2 linked regions of the Homo sapiens genome follow. The protein of the gene in region 1 purifies or fractionates together with the protein of each later gene. This does not show direct contact. Each region holds a gene or a part of one and is shown on either strand. Other genes may lie near its edges.

What was found. The genes of interacting proteins can lie anywhere in the genome.
Region 2: the proteins of GPAT3 (region 1) and RAB11FIP2 purify together in Homo sapiens (affinity purification with mass spectrometry; one large-scale study listed by BioGRID and IntAct). This does not show direct contact.

Annotation. Positions count from the first base shown.
Region 1 is NC_000004.12:83,601,984-83,605,736, forward strand, and holds part of GPAT3 (glycerol-3-phosphate acyltransferase 3), read left to right. Parts: intron 1-2,684; coding exon 2,685-2,784; 3' UTR 2,785-3,753. UniProt on the Homo sapiens protein: Converts glycerol-3-phosphate to 1-acyl-sn-glycerol-3-phosphate (lysophosphatidic acid or LPA) by incorporating an acyl moiety at the sn-1 position of the glycerol backbone.
Region 2 is NC_000010.11:118,040,375-118,044,027, reverse strand, and holds part of RAB11FIP2 (rab11 family-interacting protein 2), read left to right. Parts: intron 1-3,462; coding exon 3,463-3,653. UniProt on the Homo sapiens protein: A Rab11 effector binding preferentially phosphatidylinositol 3,4,5-trisphosphate (PtdInsP3) and phosphatidic acid (PA) and acting in the regulation of the transport of vesicles from the endosomal recycling compartment (ERC) to the plasma membrane.

The DNA.
Region 1 (3,753 bases):
GGTTAAGACTAAACATTTGTATTACACTGTCTACATTGGAATATGTTAAACTAAATGACAGAATCATAGCATCACAAAACTATATAAAACGACCTTGGTCCACAGATGTCCTATAACCCATGGTCATACGTGCAACTGGGTTCCTTTTCCTTATTTAAAACTCTTTACTCACTCTTTATCTTACCTGACACTCAGCCCTCCTGCTTCTATCCTGAAGTCAGTGTCTGTAGTCTCAGACACAGGAAGGGAAGAAAGCCTTGAGAGACAAGAACAACCTAGGGGAGTCAGCCAAGTACAGACTCTCCATCAGAGTGGCTGAACTAAATCCATCAAAAATGATCCTCAGAATTGTCCAGTGTCCTTTTTTCAGGCCATATGCAATTGTATAATAAAATTACTTTTAATTACCTAGCCTCTTAAAAAAAAGAAAGTGGCCTCATTGCCTTTCTAGATTTATTTGTCATGTACCTATTGGTTATGAATTAACATATCTAGATTGTTTTTTCATAGATTGAGTGAAAATATAATTTTATGATCTTAAACTGGCTTTTATATATGGCTGCTCCCTCTCTTAAGAACTAAGACCTGCTGCCATTGCAAAGGGGAATTGGATAAAATTTTGAAGTCTCTAAGGGGTGGCAAATCACAGTTTAAGTGCTTAGAGCAGCATGAGGTTTACTGGGTGCTTGGGAAGGAGAATTGTACAAAATGATGTCAGATTGCTCAAGACTTACATTTTTGCCTGTTTTGGGCTTGGATCTTGTGAAAGGAGAAAGGCCTTTCTTATTTCTTTAGTTTCCTTAGTTCTCACTATTCAGAATTCAGGTAAGTGCTGTTAATAGAAGAAGCTCATTTGGATAAAAGAGGCTTATGTGGACAATTCTGTGGACCTAACAACAATTTATAATCTTGTTTCATGAAAACCTCCCACAACTGACCCACTGGATGATTTGTGGATCACAGTCTGTTTTTAAGTTGAGGACTTATTGCTGTGTCTTAGATTTGAGTCTAGAAGCCAGAACATTGCATTTGTCTCAAGCCGGTGTCTCTGTGGAGGTCAAGTTCTGTCCACATGGCATTGAGTTCACTGGCTAACCTACGATCATTCACCATCATCAGAAAGCATTTGGTAAACATGCATGCTTAACTGGGTTAAAATTAAACAGTCAGAGTATAAAGTAAGCAAGTTCTCAGCCCATGCTCTCCTAGCAGTTAAAATCTAAAACTTTAGATTAGGAGCCAGATAGTGACCTATGATAGTCCAAACTACTCCCAGCAACTCCAGTTTGTTGTTTCTTTATGTGTAGTCCAAAGAAGGAAAAGCATGCAGAGTTCTTATACCCAGGCAGGCACCCTGGAGAGAGTTCAAAGATTTACAGGCTCTGAATGAAGGAATGCTGCTTACATAGGCACTTCTGGTTGAATGCAACTTATGATTTTGTTATTTTATTCGGAATCTGTTTTGGAATATAAATGATTATAAATGCTGGAAATATAGTGCTTTGAATGAAAATACAACTTGTTAGACCGGGCACGGTGGCTCACGCCTGTAATCCCAGCACTTTGGGAGGCTGAGGCAGGCAGATCACCTGGGGTTGGGAGTTCGAGACCAGCCTGGCAAACATGGAAAAACCCTGTCTCTATTAAAAATACAAAATTAGCCGGGCCTGTTGGTGCATGCCTGTAATCCCAGCTACTCAGGAGGCTGAGACAGGAGAATCACTTGAACTCGGGAAGTGGAGGTTGCGGTGAGCCAAGATTGTGCCATTGCACTCCAGCCTGGACAACAAGAGCAAAACTCTGTCTCAAAAAAAAAAAAAAAAAAAAAAGAAAATATAACTTGTTAAACATAGATAGGGTTATATTTGAACAATGATTTATCTTTTTTGAATAATCATTTATCTTTAAGAAATTTACCCACACATATACAGTACCCTTACCATTTCTTCTGTGTATATTTTAAATTTTCCTGTGGTTTTCTAGTAAGACATAGGTAGACGAAAAACCAGTATTTTGTTTTCCTTAAGGAATAATATAGAGAAATAATCCTAGTTTTAATAATCCTTGTTTCAATCCAGTTTTTGTTTGTTTGTTTGTTTGTTTTTGAGACGAAGTTTTGCTCTTGTTGCCCAGGCTGGAGTGCAATGGCGTGATCTCGGCTCACTGCAACCTCCACCTCCCGGGTTCAAGCGATTCTCCTGCCTCAGCCTTCCAAGTAGCTGGGATTATAGGCATACACCACCATGCCCAGCTAATTTTGTATTTTTAGTAGAGACAGGGTTTCACTATGTTGGCCAGGCTGGTCTCGAACTCCTGATCTCAGGTGATCCACCCACCTTGGCCTCCCAAAGTGCTGGGATTACAGATGTGAGCCACTGTGCCTGGCCAATCCAAATATTTAATACACCACCCCTTAACTTCTAAAGAAACTGAGTTGGGGATATTGTTACTTATTTTAACCAAACATCAGAGAGATTGTTCCTTCCTCAAAGTAATGTGTATTTGGCAAGTGGTAGGGCAGAAACTGAAACCTGGGTCTTCCTGTTTCCAAATCCAGTGTTCTTTCCCTTATTTCATCCCAGCTGCCTAAGCGTCATGGTATCATGCAGCATGTAATTATTAAGTTAACTCTTTTAAATCACCGCTGTAAAGTATCTTTTATGTATTTGTCTTTCTGTTTGCAGGGATGGAGGACTAAAGAGAGCAAAGGTGAAGGACATCTTTAAGGAAGAGCAGCAGAAAAATTACAGCAAGATGATTGTGGGCAATGGATCTCTCAGCTAAGAGGACGGATGACAGCCTTTAGATCTAGAACTAGCCCTTAGAAATGGAATGGCTTTTTTTGTTTTGTTTTGTTTTATTGTTTTGTTTTTATTATTGTTAATCTTTTCTACAGAATGATTGTCTCTACCTCTTTATGCCAGAGGCAGAACCTACAGGTGCCCTTTTTGGCTTTTGTTGTTGTTGTAACATTAGCCCCATGGATTGTAAGGTGGTTTACTGAGTTAAAACAGATTCTGCTTTTGTAAAATGATGGCATCACTGTGGACTGAATGAAATATTTGTATAGAAAAAAGTGCTTGAAAAGTGTGTTTGGAACTCATCGATAGGGTAATTCTCCAAAAATGCCCAAACTCTTTTTCTGTAATTAGCCTTGCCACTTTCTTCAGTCACTTAAATGGTGAGATTACACATCAGTGCAAGATGACCATTATGGTTATGGTCTACTGCAAGGTTGAAAGGAAAAATGGAGGATTGTATTTAGGAAAAGGGACAACTTTGTGGCCACCTGCTCTGAAAGTCAAAAGGAAATGTAAATTAGTGTCATTAGTGTGTTGGAAGAGAAATACTATTCAGTAAGCTTCGCCAAAGAAAAGTGAGTCAAAGTTAATGTGTGTGCGCATTTATATGTAGGCAGCTCGTAGACCACATTTTAACCAGCAACTGGTAACAAAGAGCTTAGTTTTCCTTGTTTGAATGCTGTAGATCTGTACCTAGTACCCCTCCCATCTACTGATTTGTTTGTTTTTGTAACCAAACACATTTTCAGATAGAAGGAGCCTTAAAAAAAAAAAATCACATTGAGTAACTTCAGTATGAATGAATGAGAGTGTGTGGAGCTACCCCTCACCCTCCACCCCTTTGTGCTTTTTATTCCCGAATTTTCCCAGTCTCTTAAACAGAAAAATGACTGATATAATTATCTTTTGGAAACTGAGCCTTAATTTTTTTTAGAGGGGGAAATAAGTTTTC
Region 2 (3,653 bases), on another chromosome or scaffold:
ATGTTATCAACAGGGTTTGTGATGTTATTGCATTCAAAGTGATTTTCATATATTGCTAAACCCTTAACATTTTATTTGTGGATAAATGGGGACCATGTATTTGATGAGATATCTTTATTGGTAATATTTCTAGTTTTTTAATATATTTAATAGCTTCCTTTTCTAGCACAGCTGTACCTGTGGCCCAGTAAGAGACAGACTTGAGCCGCCGGTATATTTCAAGGAAGATATTTAATATTCTGCACATTGCTAAACTTTTTCAGCATATTCCCAAGTGCTTTTTAGAAAACTGTTTCGAGTGATGAGGACTACCAGCTAACTTAGATGTCCTATGAAACTGCTGGGTGTGACACTTTTTACATTTTGACACTGAAGACATATATTTACAGCTTGTCTTCCAGTTGTGTCATGATAGATAAAGAAGTATGACAACTAAAATTATTACTTTACTTATTTTCTTACCTTGAAAATATATGTCTTTTTTCTCTCTTAAGGAATGGGGAAAAAGGGTCTGAGCCAGAACCCTTTGAGTGGGCCTGGGAAGAGAACTTCTGTATCTCCTCCTTTAGAGGATGTCTGGGTTGGTTCTGGCATGAGATTTAAAGAAATAATACAATGTTTAGTAATAGAATGTTAAAATCATTGATGCTGTTGTGTAATATCCATTGATTTTTTACAATAGAAGTAGGTGATGTTGACTTTTTTTTTTAATGCTCATGAAAAGTAATAACAACCAGAGTCTGTAGAGTTAGATGTGACTCAGACATATGCAGATTTTAGGACGTGTGTGTGTCTCAGCGGTGCACCTGTGTCCTGGCCTCTGGCACCCTTACTGCCAATTTTGTCCCATTTCTGACCACACAGCACCAATTGCTTGGGAATAGTTCCCATATGTGTGCTGGTTTTTGAACATGGACCTGTGCCCACTAAAAATTGAACAGAGGCCATGTACAGTTTAAATCCAGTACTCCAGAGGTGAAAAAAAGTCAGCTAATCCAGTAAGCTCCAAATGCTGTGTCTTCGTTTTATCTTTCTGAAGACTGGAAAAACAAATGCTATCTCTGAAATGATTCTTGAAGATCTCATTAAGACTTCCCTATTATGTCATTTTCAAAACAAAGCAACTAAAGTTATTTGTCATTGCTACATTTTCAATGAGTATATTTGTAAAAGTTCTTTGCAGTTTTTTTTGGGGGGTGGGGAATGGACATTATAGTGTATTTACAGTTTGTAGTCAAATACTGATTTGCTTTATTCAGGTTTACATAGGTCTTTACAGTTTCCTACTAAAAAAACAAGACAATGTAAACACATACACACACACACACAGTTGTAGCTTACTTGTAAGAATATAGTTCTAGAAATAAAAATTGAATAAACATTTAATGCAAGGCAGACTGCCTTCCAGGAGCTTATACTCTAGCAGTAGAAAATTTGCATTGTCTTTCTCTTCAGCTCTCATGTCTCCTTATTAAATACAGTGTCCTGCAGTATGTGCCAGCCATGTGGTTAACCTTATTAACATATGTGGTTCATCAAATAAGAAAGAGCTTCTATTTTCCTGCAGATGTTATTCATCAACTTTAGATTTTTTTCTTTATTGACTTTAATCTGACATTGGGAAGTTACATATCATTCCTTGTGCCTCAATTTCCTCATCTATGAAATAAAGATGTTAAAGTAGATGATTTATTGGTCTTATCTCTAAAAGTCTGTGAATTTCCACTACCCCCACCCCCTTCCATTTTGGGGGTAATTAATTTTTTTTTACTCATATTTGCTTTGATTTGTTACATACGTGCTCGTTTTTGTTTGCAAATTTTTGGTACATTTTTTGCAAAGTATATTCACCTACATTCTATAAAGCCTGAGGTACTACAGAGTATTTCTGAGCTACTGTTCGTCAGATGTGTTTCTCTCCCTATTGAAAATAGCTCTGTTTTCCAAAACTTTGAGTTAACTGGGTATATAATCTGCTTCATTTCCAGGCTTTTTGAGTGCTCAATTGTATGTTATTTAAGGTTGTCTATTTCACAGAAATCGCTGTCATTTCTTATTTCTAGCCCCTGTTTCTTCAGATTTTACCATTTGCCTTATATAAGGGATTTTCTCAGTTTAAGGTCTCAGGCTAATAGTATTTTAAAATATTGATATTCTAAGAAATGGCTAGTTTTGATGCAACTATATCTGAATTGATTGAATAGCTCCAATTTAGTTAATCAAGAAAATATTTTTCTTCCATGTTACGTGCAAAGATGTAGCTGGTATTTATATCATGTGCCAGTATTTCAACTTGATATACAGTAAATGTAATCTTCTCTTGGCATATCCAGTTGGTAACAATGAGAGAAAGAACTAATGTAAAATTAGATCAGAGTTCCTTTGTAGCTAAGAAAATTTGTTACACTCGATTAGAGCTATATTTAAATAATAACCTGTGTGCAGGAATGGATATTATGCCTCATTGCTAAGTTATGTGAAAACATTGTAGAAACTCTTTCAGGCTTGATTTTGTAGTTTTTTTTGGCTGTTTTCCCATAGAATGACCACTTGTGACATGGCCAACTGGAGAATTTCTCATGGATAAAAATACTATAAAACCAAAATATTGCTTCTTGTATATCATTTAAATACAGATAGTGCCATACATTGAAGGGACTAAAACGTAAGATTTGGCTTCATTTTCAAAATAATTTTTATTTGGTATTGTCACAGTAGCAATAGTAAAATGAAGCAAATAGATTCAAACAAGAAGCATTTTAGGTTTTTTTTTTTCCTTTTGAAAACTTCACAAGATTTATTTTTTGTCACTTCTTGCATTTTACTTATTTTTTGCATATTTTATTCAGGAGTAGGCTTTGATTCATTTTATGTCAATCTAAATGACATCATATGCTGTTTTAATGATTAGCAAGCTATATGCAATGATCTCCAATGTTAACAAAATTCTTTTGCTACTTTTACGTAAGTAATATTTTGGGATGGGGCCAGGTATTTATTATTGTATTAAAATGTCATGAGATTCATTTTATAATGCTCAAAAATAATTTGTATTGGTGAATTCTTTCAAAATCTCTGCCTCAATGTCTTTTAATGTTAAAAAAAAATGTCCTTAGGCCGTGAGCAACACTTAATCCCATATGGAAAACTTCTAGCATTGATAAGAATTTTTGATGATGAGTGATTTTCAAATTACAAAAGAAAAGATTATCTGAAAACATTTTCAAACTTGCCAAAGACCTATTCATTCCTTCAGTATATGTTACATCACAGAGACAATGATCAGTTTTTTAAACTAAATAATAAGTAAAGCCCGAAATACTGTGGCTGACAGATTCTTATTCAGAGCTTAGGTTGCCTTGATGTATAGTTACTTTACCTAAAAGGCTATTTGTATGTAACAGAACTCAGTATCCTCTCTCTATTATGTGTTACAGCCAATTTTTTTTTCTTCTCTTTAAGGTGGTTTAGATTAGAATCCAAACAAGGAAAACGAATCAAAAACAGGGGTGAGATAAAGGTCAATATTCAGTTTATGAGGAACAATATGACCGCAAGTATGTTTGACTTATCAATGAAGGACAAAACCAGATCTCCTTTTGCAAAGTTAAAAGATAAGATGAAGGGTAGAAAAAATGATGGAACATTTTCTG